2 separate regions of the Homo sapiens genome follow, and region 1 is reported to be linked to region 2. Evidence: microRNA targets listed by miRTarBase, many of them from high-throughput screens and not tested one by one. Region 2 holds a microRNA gene; the other region holds the end of a gene's coding sequence.
What was found. The annotated mature microRNA hsa-miR-4426 reads GAAGAUGGACGUACUUU and lies in region 2 at 3,030-3,046, opposite strand. An mRNA with a match to its seed (bases 2 to 7 or 8) in the 3' UTR can be bound and repressed. Matches are read on the target gene's strand: a 7mer-m8 pairs with bases 2 to 8, a 7mer-A1 pairs with bases 2 to 7 and ends in A, and an 8mer does both.

Region 1 (4,378 bases), not on the chromosome of region 2:
AGGGTGCTTCATTGTTTATGTTTGTTTTGTTTTATTTCCAACTTTTTTGGGGTACCTTAAATTGTAACTTCCAAGAACCTGCTTCTACTACGGGAAGGCAAGCTGACTTTTAACTATATTAGTTTTCTTTGTGTAGTTCTTCATCAACATGCAAAACAAGGCCCCATCATGTGGGAAAACTTACATAAAAAAACTTTAAATTAAAAAAAAAAAAAAAGCTTCTTTACTATTTGTAACTCCCATTCTTAGGTTTCCTTTATTGTGCGCTATAGAATTGTTCCTCTTTCTTGTCCCTAGGCATCATTTATATGGTTCTTGTTTTGGTACAATTCCCCATAATATTCCACAATGTACTGTTTTGTGAGTAGACTGAATAGATTTTTTTTTTTTTGCTTCTTCACATCCACTGCGGAGTTGTAACTGGAGACATATTTCCACCCACAAAGGCTCCAGATGTTAAAACGTTTCCCAACATCGACTTAATACAGTGACGGCAACACCTCCCTCCCGCCCCTCCCAGTAGGGTTGGGATTGTACTGTATTCCCTACTGGTTTACCCTTCCCCCCTGTAAAGGGTAACATTTTCCCTGGGTGCAGAGGCTCCCTTATAGTCTCCAAGACTGAAGGACCTATAAGAAAAAGAACAAAAACAATTTTATCTTTAACAATCGTTTGTCTTTCAAAGCCAGTGGAACAAAAAATTAATCAAATAAGAATGCTATCTTTACCTATAAAGAAAATGAGAAATTTGGACAAATTGCCTAATATCGTGTTAGTCACTTATAACCATGCTGCTTCCTTCTCCTATGGCACTGAATTGTTTGCTGCATCAGGTATGAAAAGTGAGGTCAAGCTGGGTAGGAGAGTTGTATAGACAGGTGTACAACACTTTGTATAGTGAAATATGCCTCGTATGATGCTATCAGTCTAATTCTTTATCCCCTTTTGCAAAATGGGACCCAATGGGAACTTGTTATTTCTTATATAACAAGTGGCCTTACTTTCTTAAAAATAAAGTAGCACTTTCTTTAGGACAATCCTTAGAATGAAAACACCATCTTTTTTTCCCCCAGTATTCCCAATATTAAGCAAACAGAAATCCAACCTATCAAAACACAAAAGAGCATTTGTTATTTGGGGTTGTCTGGTATTTTAAGCCTAGAAGGCACTAGAAGTGTTCATTACCACAGCAGGGTCACTACATTCAGTAAGTATCAACAAACAAATTCTACATAAAAAAAGAGAGAGAGAAAAAAGCAAATTTAACATTTATTTATTTATTTTGGAGATAGCACCTTGCTCTGTCACCCAGGCTGGAACGCAGTGGTGTGAATATGGCTCACTGAAGCCCCAACCTCCTGGGCTCAAGCAATCCTCCTGCCCAGTCTCCTGAGTAGCTGGGACCATAGGTACATACCACCATGCCCAGCTCATTTTTTTCTTTTTAATTTTTTTCATAGAGATGGAGATCTCATCATGTTGCCCAGGCAGGTCTCAAACTCCTGGGCTCAAGCAATGCTCCCACCTCAGCCTCCCAAAATGCTAGGATTATAGATGTGGGCCATCACACCCTGCCTACACTTGCCTTCTTGATGTTCCTAATTAGTTCCCATTCTGATCCTATTTCACTTGGTCATTTCCACTATCTTCCAGTCACTTGGTTTTTCTGGTAGGAACTTTTTTCTATGCTAAACAGTTTTAATGATAAAAAGGATATTAAGAAATAAGGTAAGATTACTGGGAGATTTAAACTGTTACCTGATAGTGGTCCTTTTACAAACAGAACTCTACTACCCAATCATGCCAAGTTTTGGCCATTTATGAACGTTCATGTGAATTCACAGAGGGCAGTTAATCCATCTGTGTAGAAATATAAGCAATCCCTTTTCTCCTGCCTCTGAAGAAAAGGAAGAGGAGTACAAAAAGGCAGGAATAAAAGATACTGATCTACTTTTAGCTCTAATTACAAAACCGAGAACTATTTCATACCTTGTCTTAGAACAGTTAATTCATGATTGGTGATGAGACCACAGAGGTAATAAATCTGAAAGTGCTCAAGACTTGTTAGTAGCTCATTGAAGCTTTGAAGCTACAAGTCATTCTCATCTTTTGCATTCTCATAATTTAACATAAGGTGAATCCAGCACTTTTCCAAAATGCCAAAGCCATTTTGGAAAACAGCTCTTGAGGACTCAAGACTGAAGTAGGACAACACATATGAAGGGCTCTGACACATTCTGGAAGCTTTGAGTCCATTTCTACTACCTTCTAGGTTAGACAGCTTGGATGGTGAAATCTTTCCAGATTTAAATTTTAGCTTGGAGTAAACAAGCAAGCAAGCAAGCCAAAAAAACTCCTCCAATTCAATCTAAAGTGTAATTCAACTTGGTGTACATCTTCTGTACATGCTCATTCAGCACATCTTCTGGCTTCCAGTCAGATATGTCTTAATTCATGTTGAAAATCTAAAGATGAATGTCAAAACCCTGATATTTATTGTACTGGCCCAGTTCCTAACCTTTACTGAGTCAACTTAGTGTGCCAGGCAACATACTAAGTTCTGGCATCACATACAGTATAGTATTTAATCCTCAACATAACTCAATGACAAAACCGAAGCTCAGAGATGAGAACTGCTAGTCCCATTTAAGTACAGAAGAGCTCAAGGAGCAAGAGTCCAAATGAATATAGTCCATCCCAAATTAAAACAGAATCTTTCATTGCTTATTTTAAAATATAGTCCTAGGCACTGGGCTCAGTGGCTTACGCCTGTAAATCCCAGCACTTTGGGAGGCCGAGGTGGGTGCATCACAAGGTCAGGAGTTCGAGACCAGCCCGGCCAACATGGTGAAACCCCATCTCTACTAAAAATACAAAAATTAGCCAGGCATGGTGGCATGTGCCTGTAATGCCAGCTACTTGGGAGGCTCGGGCAGGAGAATTGCTTGAACCCAAGAGGCGGAGATTACAGTGAACTCAGATTGCGCCACTGCACTCCAGCCTGGGCGAAAGAGTCTCTGTCTCAAAAAAAAAAAAAAAAAAAAAAAAAAAAAAAAAAAAAAGAAAAAAAAAAGTGATGGGCACATGGTAGGTACTCAGTGAAACATACAGTGAAAAACAAAAACAGTGGGCCAAAACCCAACTGAGTTTTCTTTCAAAGCACGTGAAATGAAAAGTCCTTGTTACAGCAGAGACTATAAATTCATGCTCCAAAATGAAATCAATTTTACCCCATCACTATGAGTGCCGATGTCTTCTTGCAGGAAAAAAGAAAGAAAAAAGGAATAGTTGAAGCAATGTTGAGAAATCCAACCAGTGTACCAACGTGGATTTCTTTATACCTACGATTCAAACTGGAGCTAATCGTTTTTCTGGGCTTGTTGGTTCTATTAAGAAAATTTCTTTAGCCTTCACTTGAGTAATTTTATTTTCTATTTATTTGAGATGGAGTCTTGCTCTGTCCCCTAGGCTGGAGTGCACTGGCAAGATCTTGGCTCACTGCAACCCCCATCTCCCAGGTTCAAACAATATTCCCACCTCAGCCTCCTGAGTAGCAGGGACTACAAAAGCACGTCCCACCACACGTGGCTAATTTTTGTATTTTTAGTAGAGATGGGTTTTCACCATGTTGGCCAGGCTGGTTTCAAACTCCTGACCTCAAATGACCTGCCCACCTTGGCCTCCCCAAGTGCTGGGATTACAGACATGAGCCACCACACCTGGCCCACTTAAGTAATTTTAAATTTAAAGCCCAAGATAGAATGATATGAGGCTATGTTTTATTCAACCTCTATAGAAAACAAATAGCTTTTTATTCTATTTAGTAGTTTGAAATGACAGCCCTAACAAAATTTTCTTCATCCTGAAAATTTCCAAACTTCTTATAACTTACCCCTAATTTTGGGACTGCAGCTTAAGTGTATTAGATTAAACACCATAAAAAGCTGCAAGACGCTCTTTTAAGGGAAGAGGAAACTGGTCAGAGAAACGCCTCCAATTTTCATCGCCAACTTGATTTTTAAATCCATGAAGGATCTGTAAGAGTGAAAAACCATTAATTTATCAATAACAAGAGAAAAATTCAGATCAGCATAGCTTCTGAAATCCAACACAGCTGATTTTTTTATAAATTTTATCCATTTTAAAGTAGCAATTCTCAAACTTCGTAGGATTCTACACCATTCCCTGCTAATATGGTCTGGCTCTGTGTCCCCACCCAAATCTCATCTTGAATTGTACTCCCATAATTCCCACGTGTTGTGGGAGGGACCCAGTGGGAGATAACTGAATCATAGGGGTAGTTTTTCCTATACTCTTCTGGTGGTAGTGAATAAGTCTCATGAGATCTGACGGTTTGATAAGGGGAAACCCGTTTCAC
Region 2 (4,404 bases):
ATGATGTGAACATCATGCATAGGAATTTCACGTTTTCTAGGTTTTGACATTTTTAGCAGTCAAGAATTACTTTATTTTGTAAATGGAAATACCACTACTAAAACCAGAATGCTATAAATAGAATGACATTTTTTCTTTCCAAAGTTGATATGCTAGAGTGTTGCAAAAATAATAATGAAAGCAAGATATTTCGTGGCAAAATTTCAGGGTAAACACTGTTAGCTGCAGGTGCTGCTAGTGAGTATTCTTTGGGCAAATGGGAAAAGGATTAAATGGTTGGTAGAGTTTAGCAGAGAAGCCATCAGGTCCTGGGCTTTTCTTTGCTGAGAGACTTTTTATTATGGCTTCAATCTTGTTTCTTGTTATTGGTCTGTTCAGGTTTGGGATTTATTCATGCTTCAATCCTGGTAGGTTTTATGTGTCTAGGAAATTACACATTTCTTCTAGATTTTTCAACTTATTAGTATATAGTTGCTCATAGTAGGCAGAAATCCTTTGGATTTCTGTGTTATTGGTTTTAATGGCTTCTTTTTAAACTCTGATGTTATTCATTTGGGTCATCTCTTTTTCTTATTCTGGCTAAAGGTTTGTCAATTTTGTTTATCTTATATGAAAACAACTTTTCATTTCATTGATCTTTTGTATTGTTTTCTTTGTATCAATTTCATTTGTTTCTCCTCTGATCTTTAGTATTTATTTTCTTCTACTAATCTTGTCTTTGGTTTTATCTTGCTTTTGTAGTTCTTTAAGATGCATTGTTAGGCTATGTATTTGACGTTTTCCTTCTTTTTTTGCTGTAGGTGCTTATAAACATAAATTTTTCTCTTAGTACTGCTTTTGCTGTATCCTATAGGTTTTAGTATATTGCGTTTCCATTATCATTTGTTTCAAGACATTTTTCAATTTCCTTCTTAATATCTTCATTGACCCACAGATCATTCAGGAGCATATTGTTTAATTTCTGTGTGTTTGTGTAGTTTCCTAAATTTCTCTTGTTATTGATTTGTAGTTTTATTCCATTTGTGGGCAGAGAAGAGGTTTGATATTATTTCAAATTTTTTGAATGCTTTAAGATATTTTTGTGACTTAACATATGGCCTACTCTTGAGAATGACCCATGTGCTGAAGAGAAGAATGTGTATTCTGCAGCTGATGGATGAAATATTTGGTAAATATCAATTAAGCCCATTTGGTCTGTAGTGCAAATTAAGTTCAATATTTCTTTGTTAATTTTCTGTCTGGAAGATTTGTCCAATGCTGAAAGTGAGGTGATGAAGTCACCAGCTGTTATTGTATTGGAGGCTCTCTCTCTTTCTCTGATAATATTTGCTTTATCTATCTGAGTGTTCCAGTGTTGGGTATATATATATTTACAATTGTTATATCCTCTTGCTGAATTGACCCGTTTATCATTATATAATAACTTTCTTTGTCTCTCTTACAGTTTTTTGTCTTGAAATCTCTTTTGTCTGATATAAAGTGTAGTTACTCCTGCTCTTTTTTTGTGTGTGTTTGTTTCTGTTGGCATGGAATATCTATTTCCATCCCTTTATTTGCAGCCTATGTGTGTCTTTGAAGGTGAAGTGTGTTTCTTGTAGGCAACAGATCAGTGGGTCTTAGTTTTTTTGTTTTTTTTTTTTAATTCATTCAGTCACTCTATGTCTTTTGAGAATTTAGTTCATTTACATTCAACATTATTATTGATAAGTAAGGACTTACTCCTGCCATTTTGTTATTTGTTTTCTGGTTGTTTTGTGGTCTTCCCTTTCTTCTTTCTTTCCTTCCTATCTTCCTTTTAGTGAAGGTGATTTTCTCTTGTGGTATGATTTAACTTTTTGCTTTCTATTTTTTGTGTATCTGTTGTATGTTTTTTTTATTTGAGGTTACCATGAGGCTTGCAAATACTATCTTGTGATCCATTACTTTAAACTGATGAGAACTTAACACTGAGTGCAGAGACAAACAAATGCAAAGAAAACTAATAAAAACTCTACATTTTGACTTTGTCCCCACACTTTTAACTTTTTGTTATTTCTATTTATAGTTTATTGTGCTGTTTGTGTTTTGAAAAGTTATTGTATTTATTATTTTTGATCAGTTCATTGTTTAGTCTTTCTACTTAAGATTAGTTTATACACCACAATTACAGTGTTATAATATTCTGTGTACCATTACCAGTGAGTTGTGTACCTTCAGATGATTCTTATTGGTTGTTAACATTTTTTTCCTTCTGATTGAAAAACTTCCTTCAGCATTTTTTTTGTAGAACAGGTCTAGTGTTGACGAAATCCCTCAATTTTTGTTTGGGAAAGTCTTTATTTATCCTTCATATTTGAAGGATATTTTCAATGGATATATTATTTTAGAGTAAAAGTTTTTTTCCTTCAGCACTTTAAATTTTTCATGCAACTCTTCTGGCTCATAAGGTTTCCACTGAAACGTCTGCTGCCAGAATTATTTGAGTTCCATTTTATGTTATTTGTTTATTTTTTCTTGCTGCTTTCAGGATATTTTCTTTATCTTTGACCTTTGGGAGTTTAATTATTAAATGCATTGAGTTAGTCTTCTTTGGGTTAAATCTGCTTGGTGTTCTATAACCTTCCTGTACTTGGATATTTATATCTTTCTCTATGTTTGGGAAGTTCTCTGTTATTATCCCTTTGAATAAACTTTCTTTCTTTTTTTTTTTTTTTTTTTAGTTCATGTCTTTTATTAAGTCATACAGTTACTTGTCTTCTGGTTTGTTGAAACAGTAAGTCAGACAACATTTGCCACAATAATGTCTGTCAAAGTGGCTTGCCATAAACACCCCAGCACCACATTCATCAGAAGGGCACTCTCGATGAAGGCAACTAATTTTGCCATTCTCATCCACCTTATAATATTTCAGGAGAGCCAGCTTAACCTTCTTTCTCTTGTGCTTATTCTTCCTGGGAGTGGTGTAAGACTTCTTCTTCCTTTTCTTAGCACCACCACGAAGTCTCAACACAAGATGAAGAGTAGACTCCTTTTGAATATTGTAGTCAGACAAAGTACGTCCATCTTCCAACTGCTTGCCAGCAAAGATCAGTCTCTGCTGATCAGGAGGAATTCCTTCCTTATCCTGGATCTTGGCCTTTACATTATCTATTGTATCCGAGAGTTCAACCTCGAGGGTGATGGTCTTCCCCATAAGGGTTTTCACGAAAATCTGCATTTTGGTGGCGGCTCCACTGCAGATGGCGGATCGAAAAGCTGAATAAACTTTCTACTCCTATATCTTTCTCTACCTCCTCTTTAAGGCCAATAACTCTTAGATTTGATTTTTCGAGTCTATTTTCTAGATCTTGTAGGTGTACTTCATTGTTTTTTTTTTTTCTTTTGTCTTCTCTGACTGTATTTTCAAATAGCCTGTCTTCAAGCTTACTAATTCTTTCTTCTGCTTCATCAATTCTGCTGTTAGGAGACTCTGATGCATTCTTTAGTATGCCATTTGCATTTTTCAATTCCAGAATTTCTGCTTGATTCTTTTTAATTATTCCAATCCCTTCGTTAAATGTATCTGATAAAATTCTGAATCCCTTTTCTGTGTTATCTTGAATTTCTTTGAGTTTCCTCAAAACAGCTATTTTCAATTCTGTTTGAAAGGTCACATATCTCTGTTTCTCCAAGATTGGTTCCTGGTGCCTTATTTATTTCATTTGATGACATCATGTTTTCCTGGATGGTACTGATGCTTGTGGATGCTCTTCAGTGTCTGGGTACTACTGAAAGGTTAGGCATTTATTGTAGTCTTCGCAGTCTGGGTCTGTTTGTACCCATCCTTCTTGGGAAGGCTTTCCAGGTATTTGAAAGGACTTGGGTGTTGTGATCTATGCCATATCTGTATCAGTGGGTACTCAAAGTCCAGTAATGCTATGGTTCCTGCAGACTCATAGAGGTACCACTTTGTCAGTCTTGGATAGGGTTAGGAAGAATTCTCTGGATTACCAGGCAGACACTCTTGTCCCCATCCATCCCTTGCTTTCTCCTGAAGAAACAAGGTCTCTCTCTCTCTCTCTCTGTTATGAGCCACCTGGAGCTGGGGTTGAAATGACACAAGCAACCCTGTGGCTACCACCACTGGGACTGTACTGGGTCATACCTAAAGCCAGCACAGCACTGTGTCTCACCTAAAGCCTGACATAACCACTCCCTGGCTACTGCCTATGTTTGCTGAAGGCCCTAAACCTCTACAATCAGCAGGTGGTGAAGTCAGCCAGGCTCATGTCCTTCCCTTCAGGGTGGTGAGTTCTCCCAAGCTTCAGGTGGGTCCAGAGATGCCATATAGAAGCCAAGGACTAGAGTCAAAAACCTAAGAAATCTACCTGCTTCTTTATTCTACCAAATAAGATGAAGTTCTTCCCACTCTTTCCTCTCCTTTCC

Region 1: the mRNA of TNPO1 is a reported target of hsa-miR-4426. The part of its 3' UTR that is shown has no 7-base or 8-base seed match.

What each region holds. Positions count from the first base shown.
Region 1 is chr5:72,904,960-72,909,337 of GRCh38, reverse strand. It overlaps TNPO1 (transportin 1), which reads right to left. Exons shown (of 25, transcript NM_002270.4): 24 at 3,893-4,035; 25 at 1-629. The coding sequence ends at 3,928. Among named protein-coding and RNA genes, the nearest start is that of MIR4804, 29 kb to the right of the region's middle.
Region 2 is chr1:192,714,975-192,719,378 of GRCh38, reverse strand. It overlaps MIR4426 (microRNA 4426), which reads right to left and starts at 3,051; the gene lies at 2,989-3,051. It also overlaps the pseudogene RPS27AP5.